Linked DNA regions of Homo sapiens. The protein of the gene in region 1 purifies or fractionates together with the protein of each later gene. This does not show direct contact. Each region holds a gene or a part of one and is shown on either strand. Other genes may lie near its edges.

Region 1 (3,917 bases):
TGCATCCAAAAGAATAAAATCTGTACCCTAGATCTGCTCTTCTTGAGGGTGCCCCACTGCCGTGTCCAGGACTTCTATTCACTCAGCCCCACATCAGAAAAGAGCCCCTTACTCCAAGCCTAAGCAGCGCTGCACCCTGAATTCCATTCCTGCCTGCTCCTCTCCACCTCCACAGCCATTCGCAGCTCAGACCTCCATTTCTTGCCCATAAAAAATGACCTCCCAGATCCTCTCCCTGCCTCCAGTCTCACACATCCTCCTCCTGACCACTTCCCAGAATAGCTTTTCCCAAAACTCCAGGCATTCAAGTGTGATCTTCATTTGTATTTTATCTGCATACCACCCTACTATTTAGTTGACATTTTTTCTCCACTTTGCAAAAGCATCCACGAAATGACAGGTTTGATATGGTTATTTTACCTAATGCATATTAAAATAAATATGTAACTTCCACAAGCACCCACACCCATCACCCACCTGCCTGCTTCCGTGTCCCTGCCTTCTCCCTGTTGCTATGGGTGAAGAGTCTGTGATCCTGGCAAGCACTTCCTTTCCACTTGGGCCCAGGATCCCATCCCCTCTCGCGTGTACAGGCCACCACTCCAACAACCCTCCCCTTGCTCCTGCACTATCAATTTCTCTCTCCACCGTTCCCACAAGCATACCCACATGCTGTTATTTGAGTTTAAAAAAAAAAAAAGTCTCTTCACCAGGCGCAGTAGCTCGCGCCTGTAATCCTAGCACTTTGGGAGGCCAAGGTGGGTGGATCACCTGAGGTCAGGAGTTCGAGACCAGCCTGGCCAACATGGCAAAACCCCGTCTCTACCAAAAATACAAAAATTAGCCAGGTGTGGTGGCGGGCACCTGTGATCCCAGGTACTTGGGAGGCTGAGGTGGGAGAATCACTTGAATCTGGGAATCTGGGAGGCAGAGGTTGCAGTGAGCCAAGATCACACCACTGCACTCCAGCCTGGGCGACAGTCAAGCTCTGTCTCAAAACAAACAAAAAAAAGTCTCTTTACCCCTCTCTTCCCTCCAAATACCACACTGTTTCTTTCCTTACCTATAGACTCACTGTCTTCAATTTCTTTTCTCCCATTCTCCAGTTAGGGTTTCACCCACTGCTCCACACAAAACTGTTTTTGTTTGTTTCGAGACAGTTTCACTCTCGTTGCCCAGGCTGCAGTGCAATGGTGCGATCCCAGCTCACGGCAAACTCTGTCTCCCAGGTTCACGCAATTCTCCTGCCTCAGCCTCCCTATAAAATGCCCGGCTAATTTTGTATTTTTAGTAGAGACGGGGTTTCTCCATATTGGTCAGGCTGGTCTCAAACTCCTGACCTCAGGTGATCCGCCTGCCTCAGCCTCCCAAAGTGCTGGGATTACAGGCGTGAGCCACCGCGCCCAGCCACAAAACTGTTTTTTTTTTCCTTTGAGACAGAGTTTCGCTCTTGTTGCCCAGGCTGGAGTGCAATGGCGTGATCTCGGCTCACTGAAACCTCTGCCTCAGCCTCCCGAGTAACTGGGATTACAGGCACCTGCCACCACACCAAGCTAATTTTTTTTTTTTTGAGACAGAATCTCCTCTGTCGCCCAGGCTGGAGTGCAGTGGCGCGATCTCGGCTCACTGCAAGCTCTGCCTCCCGGGTTCACACCATTCTCCTGCCTCAGCCTCCCGAGTAGCTGCAACTACAGGCGCCCGCCACCATGCCTGGCTAATTTTTTGTATTTTTTTAGTAGAGACGGGAGTTTCACCGTGTTAGCCAGGATGGTCTCGAACTCCTGACCTCATGATCTGCCCGCCTCGGCCTCCCAATGTGCTGGGATTACAGGCGTGGGCCACCACGCCTGGCCTTTTAAAAATATTTTTAGTAGAGACGGGGTTTCACCATGTTGGCCAGGCTGGTCTTGAACTCCTGACCTCAGATGATCTGCCCGCCTTGGCCTCCCAAAGTGCTGGGATTACAGGTGTGAGCCACCGCACCCAGCCACAAAACTGTTTTTAACATGGTCACTAATGACTTCTCCAGTGTTCAATCCAGAGGTCAATTTTCAGGCTGGACTTTATTGGACCCTTCAGCAGCATTTCACACAGCTGATGCTTGAAACCCCACTACATTTTGCTCCCAATCACATGCTCCTGGTCCTCCTCCTACCTCTAGCTTCTCATTCCAGTCTCCTTTACCGGCTCTTTCTCATCTTCCCATTCTCAAACTATTGGAGCTGCAGGGCTCAATTGTTGGACATTTCGCATCAATTCCTTTTGTATCTACACTTGTTGCCTTTGTGACTTCATCCAGTCTCGTGGGTAAGATTTAGTCCCTCTATAAGTTGACGACTCTTAATTTCCAATTTATCTCCAGTTTAAACATCTGCCCTGAAATCCAGGTTTGTGTATACTGTACACTGAACTTACATCTCTATCTAGAGGTCCAATAAGCATTTTAAACTTAATGTTCCCTGCCGGGCATGGAGACTCACACCTGTAATCCCAGCACTTTGGAGGCCGAGGTGAGCAGATCACTTGAGGTCAGGAGTTCGAGACCAGCCTGGCCAACATGGCAAAACCCCGTCTCTAATAAAAATACAAAACTTAGCTAGGCATGGTGGCGGGTGCCTGTAATTCCAGCTACTCAGGAGGCTGAGGCAGGAGAATTGCTTGAACCTGGGAGGTGGAGGTTGCAGTGACCCGAGGTGGCGCCACTGCATTCCAGCCTGGGCGACAGAGCGAGACTCCGTCTCAAAAAACAAAAATAAAAAATAAACGTTCCAAAACTGAGCTCCTGATATGCCCCCCACAGCTACCTTTACCCCATCTGTATTAGTAAACAGCAACTCCATTCTTCTCATTTCTCAGGCCAAAAACCCTACTCCCCTCTCTCCTCTCACACTGCATGTCTAATCCATTGGCAAATCCCTTTGACTCGACCTTCAAAATATATCCAGAATCCAACCACTTCTCCCCATACTCCCGCTGCTACCATGCTGGTCTAGCTCTCACCCTCTCCTGGATTACAGGAAGTCTCCTAACTGGTCCGTTTCTGTCCTTGTCTCCCTATAGTCTGTTCTCAGCATGGTAGCCAGAATGACCCTTTTAAAACATAAGCAGGATCAAGTCATTTGTAACCCCATCCCCACTCACATTCTCTATTTCCCTCTTGCTTTAAACTCCTCTTTAGGCCCAGGCACAGTGGCTCACGCCTGTAATCCCAGCACTTAAGGAGGCTAAGGCAGGCGGATCGCTTGAGCCCAGGAGTTCAAGACCAGCCGGGGCAACATGATGAAAACCCATCTCTATCAAAAAACAAATAAAAGTAAAAATAAAAATAACCTCCTCCTTAATGCTTACCATCATTTCACATACAATATACTTTCCTTTCCCTGATTTATTGTTTGTCCCCACTAAAATATAAACACCATGAGAGGAGTTTTTGGTTTTTTGTTCACTGCAATCATTTGTGACTAGACAGTGCCTGGTAGATAGCAGATGCTCAATAAATATTTGCTAAAGGATGAATTATTGATTTAAAAAATTGTCCGGCTGACCGTGTTGGCTCACGCCTATAACGCTAGCACTTTGGGAGGCCAAGGCAGGTGAATCACCTAAGGTCAGGAGTTCGAGACCAGCCTGGCTAACATGGTGAAACCCCCGTCTCTACTAAAAATACAAAAATTAGCCGGGTGTGGTGGCGCGCACCTGTAATGCCAGCTACTTGGGAGACTGAGGCAGGAGAATCACCTGAATCCAGGAGGCAGAGGTTGCAGTGAGCCAAGATCGTGCCACTGTACTCCTGCCTCGGCAACAAGAGCAAAACTCCATCTCAAAAAAAAAAAAAAAGAAAAGAAAGAACAAAAAGTCCATCTGGCCAGGCGCAGTGGCTCACACCTGTAATCCCAGCATTTTGGGAGGTCAAGGCG
Region 2 (3,500 bases), about 39 Mb from region 1:
GAGGCTACATTGAGCCAAGATCGTGCCACTGCACTCCAGTCTGGGTGACAAAATGAGACCCTGTGTCAAAAAAAATAAATAAATAAAAGTGGGCCTGATGCGGTGGCTCACTCATGGCTGTAATCCCAGCAGTTTGGGAGGCCAAGGTGGGCAGATCACCTGAGGTCGGGAATTCGAGACCAGCCTGACCAACATGGAGAAACCCCGTCTCTACTAAAAATACAAAAAAAAATAGCGGGACGTGGTGGCACATGCCTGTAATCCCAGCTACTCAGGATGCTAAGGCAGGGGAATCGCTTGAACCCGGGAGTCGGAGGTTGCAGTGAGCTGAGATGGCGCCATTGCACTGCAGCCTGGGCAATAAGAGCGAAACTCTGTCTCCAAAAAACAAAAAAGTGAAAGAATATGAGCATATGAGCTAGGAGTAAGGAGACCTTCATTTGCCTCATGCAATTGACTTTGGCACTTTTGGCAACCTACTTAACCCATGTATATCTTGGCCTTTTCAAGTTGAAATAGGAAAAATTATACCTACTTAGTTCCTTTTTCGTCAAGCAGGTCTAAGCATAAAATGCCTTGATAGCTACGAAAACTTTTGGGTTGGGTGCAGTGGCTCACGCCTATAATCCCAGGACTTTGGGAGGCCAAGGCTCACTGCAGCCTCCGCCTCCCAGGCTCAAACAATCCTCCCCCGTCAGCCTCCGTAGTAGCTGGGACTATAAGTGTGTGCCACCACACCCGGCTACTTTTTATATTTTTTGTAGAGACAGTGTCTCACTCTGTCGTCCAGGCTGGAATGCAGTTCAAACCTTTTCTGCTGAAAATGTTTTGCCGAACTAGTCCTAGTAAAAGAAACAAATTTAACTGTATAAAAGTAATTAGAATTTGAGCTGAAAAAATGAAAATGTCATTAGGCATGATCTGATAGCACAAAACCCCACACTAGTTATTTATGGGGAAGTTGTTTTTACCATGTTGCCTGTGACCACTCAGTACCGGTACCTGATGAATTTGTGGTAATGTTGAGAAGTTATGGTGTTTCTGCAGTTTTTCCCAGGTCATGAGTCTCGGGCTACAGAAGCTTTGTGCTGGGCAGAAGGACAGCGACTCTTTAGTGCTGGGCTCAATGGCGAGATTATGGAGTATGATTTACAGGCGTTAAACATCAAGTATGCTATGGATGCCTTTGGAGGACCTATTTGGAGCATGGCTGCCAGCCCCAGTGGCTCTCAACTTTTGGTTAGTAAGCAACTATTGGTAATTCAAACCAAAATTTCTCTCGTGCCTGCTCAGACTTTCTTCCCTGTGCTCATAGGAGAGTAACGATATATTATGGCATGTGGCAACCCCAACTATAAGATTGGAATTGATAGTGAAGATTTTAAAAATCCCCAGCATTCTTTTTGCTACTAGTCTGGACCTTGTTGATTCATTTATGAAATGAGAGGATTACATCAGTTCAACATTTCCCAAACTGTGTTCTGTGGAATTTGGAGATGTAGAGGTTTTTTTGTTTTGGTTTGTTTTGTGTTTTATGGTAAATTTCATTTCACAAATACAGCATATTTAATCCTGCTGTAAATTCACAATGCACATCGGTACATGAAGAGTTCTGAGAGTCCCTTCAGCAAGTTAACCTGTGCACTTGTGTTTCAGCCCAGTGTTTCTCAAAAATATGACCACACACTGAGCCCCTTCCCATAATTACCATTAGAGTGGGTGCTTCCAGATCTTTAATTCTGTGATGAGTCTGATTATTTTTGATCTGCACTAATTTGCACGATATCTGAAGGTGTTTCCATTTAGGTTATAATGTTAGTAGGTCTTTTATTTAGGCCAAGGGTCTCTAGCAGAAGTATTCTATGAAATCCTACTTCTAATCCATGTCATACAGAGGAATGGGGCCACTAATTAGAACTCTTAATATCAGTCTGTTTTCTGTCTAGGATATGAAGGCTACTGAGAATACACTATTAGTTTCTTGATAACTAGTACTTTCTCTCACAAATGATTTTTCTTTTTCACGGCAACTGATAGCTTTAAGGAGGAAGAGAGAATAGAGAGAGTGTGTGTTGGGGGGTGTGTGTGTGTGTTTAGTCCTATAAAATGTTTACTATTGATTTTTTCTGTTTACTACCTCTTTCTCAAATAGGTTGGTTGTGAAGATGGATCTGTGAAACTATTTCAAATTACCCCAGACAAAATCCAGTTTGAAAGAAATTTTGATCGGCAGAAAAGTAAGCGTCATTTTTCATGGGGCGGTAAATAGCCTTAACAAGAAATTAAGTTTCTGTGCCACTGGGGATGGGATATTTTCCCATGAATCCAGGTAATATTTTATCTCTACTGGGTACAGGGAGGGTATGTGCTAGAAGCCATCCCCAGCCCAGGCTTTACCCATTGTATAGCATAGTTGTGACTGCTTGGTTAAGTAATAATATAGAAAACCAGAAATCCAAAATTGGAAAGCTAGTGTTTCTGTGGAAGTCAATTTGTTAGTTATCACTTACTTTTGTGATGTTTTAACAAGCGTACATGAAGTCTTGAACTACAATTTTGTCATTAGGAACTATGGTTCTTTTCTTTCTTTTTTTTTTTTTTTCTGGAGGCAGAGTGTCACTCTGTCATCCATGCTGGCAGTGGCGGTGGCATGATCTCGGCTCACTGTAATCTCCGCCTCCCGGCTTCAAGTGATTCTGGTGCCTCAGCCTCCCAAGTGACTGGGATTCCAGGCACGTGCCATCGTGCCCTGCTAATTTTCGTATTTTTAGTAGAGACAGGATTTCACCATGTTGGCCAGGCTGGTCTCGAACTCTTGGTCTTACTCAAGTGATCCACCTGCCTTGGCCTCAAGTGCTGGGATTACAGGCCTGAGCCACTTGCCCTGGCCAAGGAACTGTGGTTCTTAATCCTTCTGGTGCATTCAAGTTGAATGAGGGAGTTTATAAACAGTTGCCCATCCTTGGGCTCCACCTGGGCTGAATTGGCATTGACCCTTTAGAACAGGGGTTGGCAGACTGTTTCTGTAAAGGACCAGATAGTAAACATTTTAGGCTTTGCCAAACCTACATTGTCTGCCAACTCTGTCAGTGTAGTGCAAAAGCAGCCATAGACGATACTGAAACTAATGGGCAGGCTGTGCTCCAGTAAAAACTTTATTTACAAAAACAAGCAGTGGGCCTGATTTGGCCTGTGGGCCACAGTTTGGTGACCCATCTTCTAGAATAGCAAATGTCCTCTGTGTCCATTAGTAATACTTATCCTCTGCTAATCAGATTCTTGCTTCGTTTTTAATATATCTTGGGTGCTCTTTTTTTTTTTTTTTTTTTTTTTTTCCTGAGATGGAGTCTTGCTTTGTCGCCCAGGCTGAAGTGCTGTGGCGTGATTTTGGCTCAATGTAACCTCTGCCTCCTGGGTTCAAGCAATTCTCCTGCCTCAGCCTCCCTAGTAGCTGGGACTACAGGTGCGTGCCACCATGCCCGGCTAGTTTTTGTGTTTTT

Evidence for each region.
Region 2: the proteins of TBC1D10B (region 1) and UTP4 purify together in Homo sapiens (co-immunoprecipitation; one large-scale study listed by IntAct). This does not show direct contact.

What each region holds. Positions count from the first base shown.
Region 1 is NC_000016.10:30,360,296-30,364,212, forward strand, and holds part of TBC1D10B (TBC1 domain family member 10B), read right to left. Parts: intron 33-3,917; exon of another isoform or gene 1-32. UniProt on the Homo sapiens protein: Acts as a GTPase-activating protein for RAB3A, RAB22A, RAB27A, and RAB35. Does not act on RAB2A and RAB6A.
Region 2 is NC_000016.10:69,135,649-69,139,148, forward strand, and holds part of UTP4 (U3 small nucleolar RNA-associated protein 4 homolog), read left to right. Parts: intron 1-1,047; coding exon 1,048-1,239; intron 1,240-2,152; coding exon 2,153-2,237; intron 2,238-3,500. UniProt on the Homo sapiens protein: Ribosome biogenesis factor. Involved in nucleolar processing of pre-18S ribosomal RNA. Part of the small subunit (SSU) processome, first precursor of the small eukaryotic ribosomal subunit.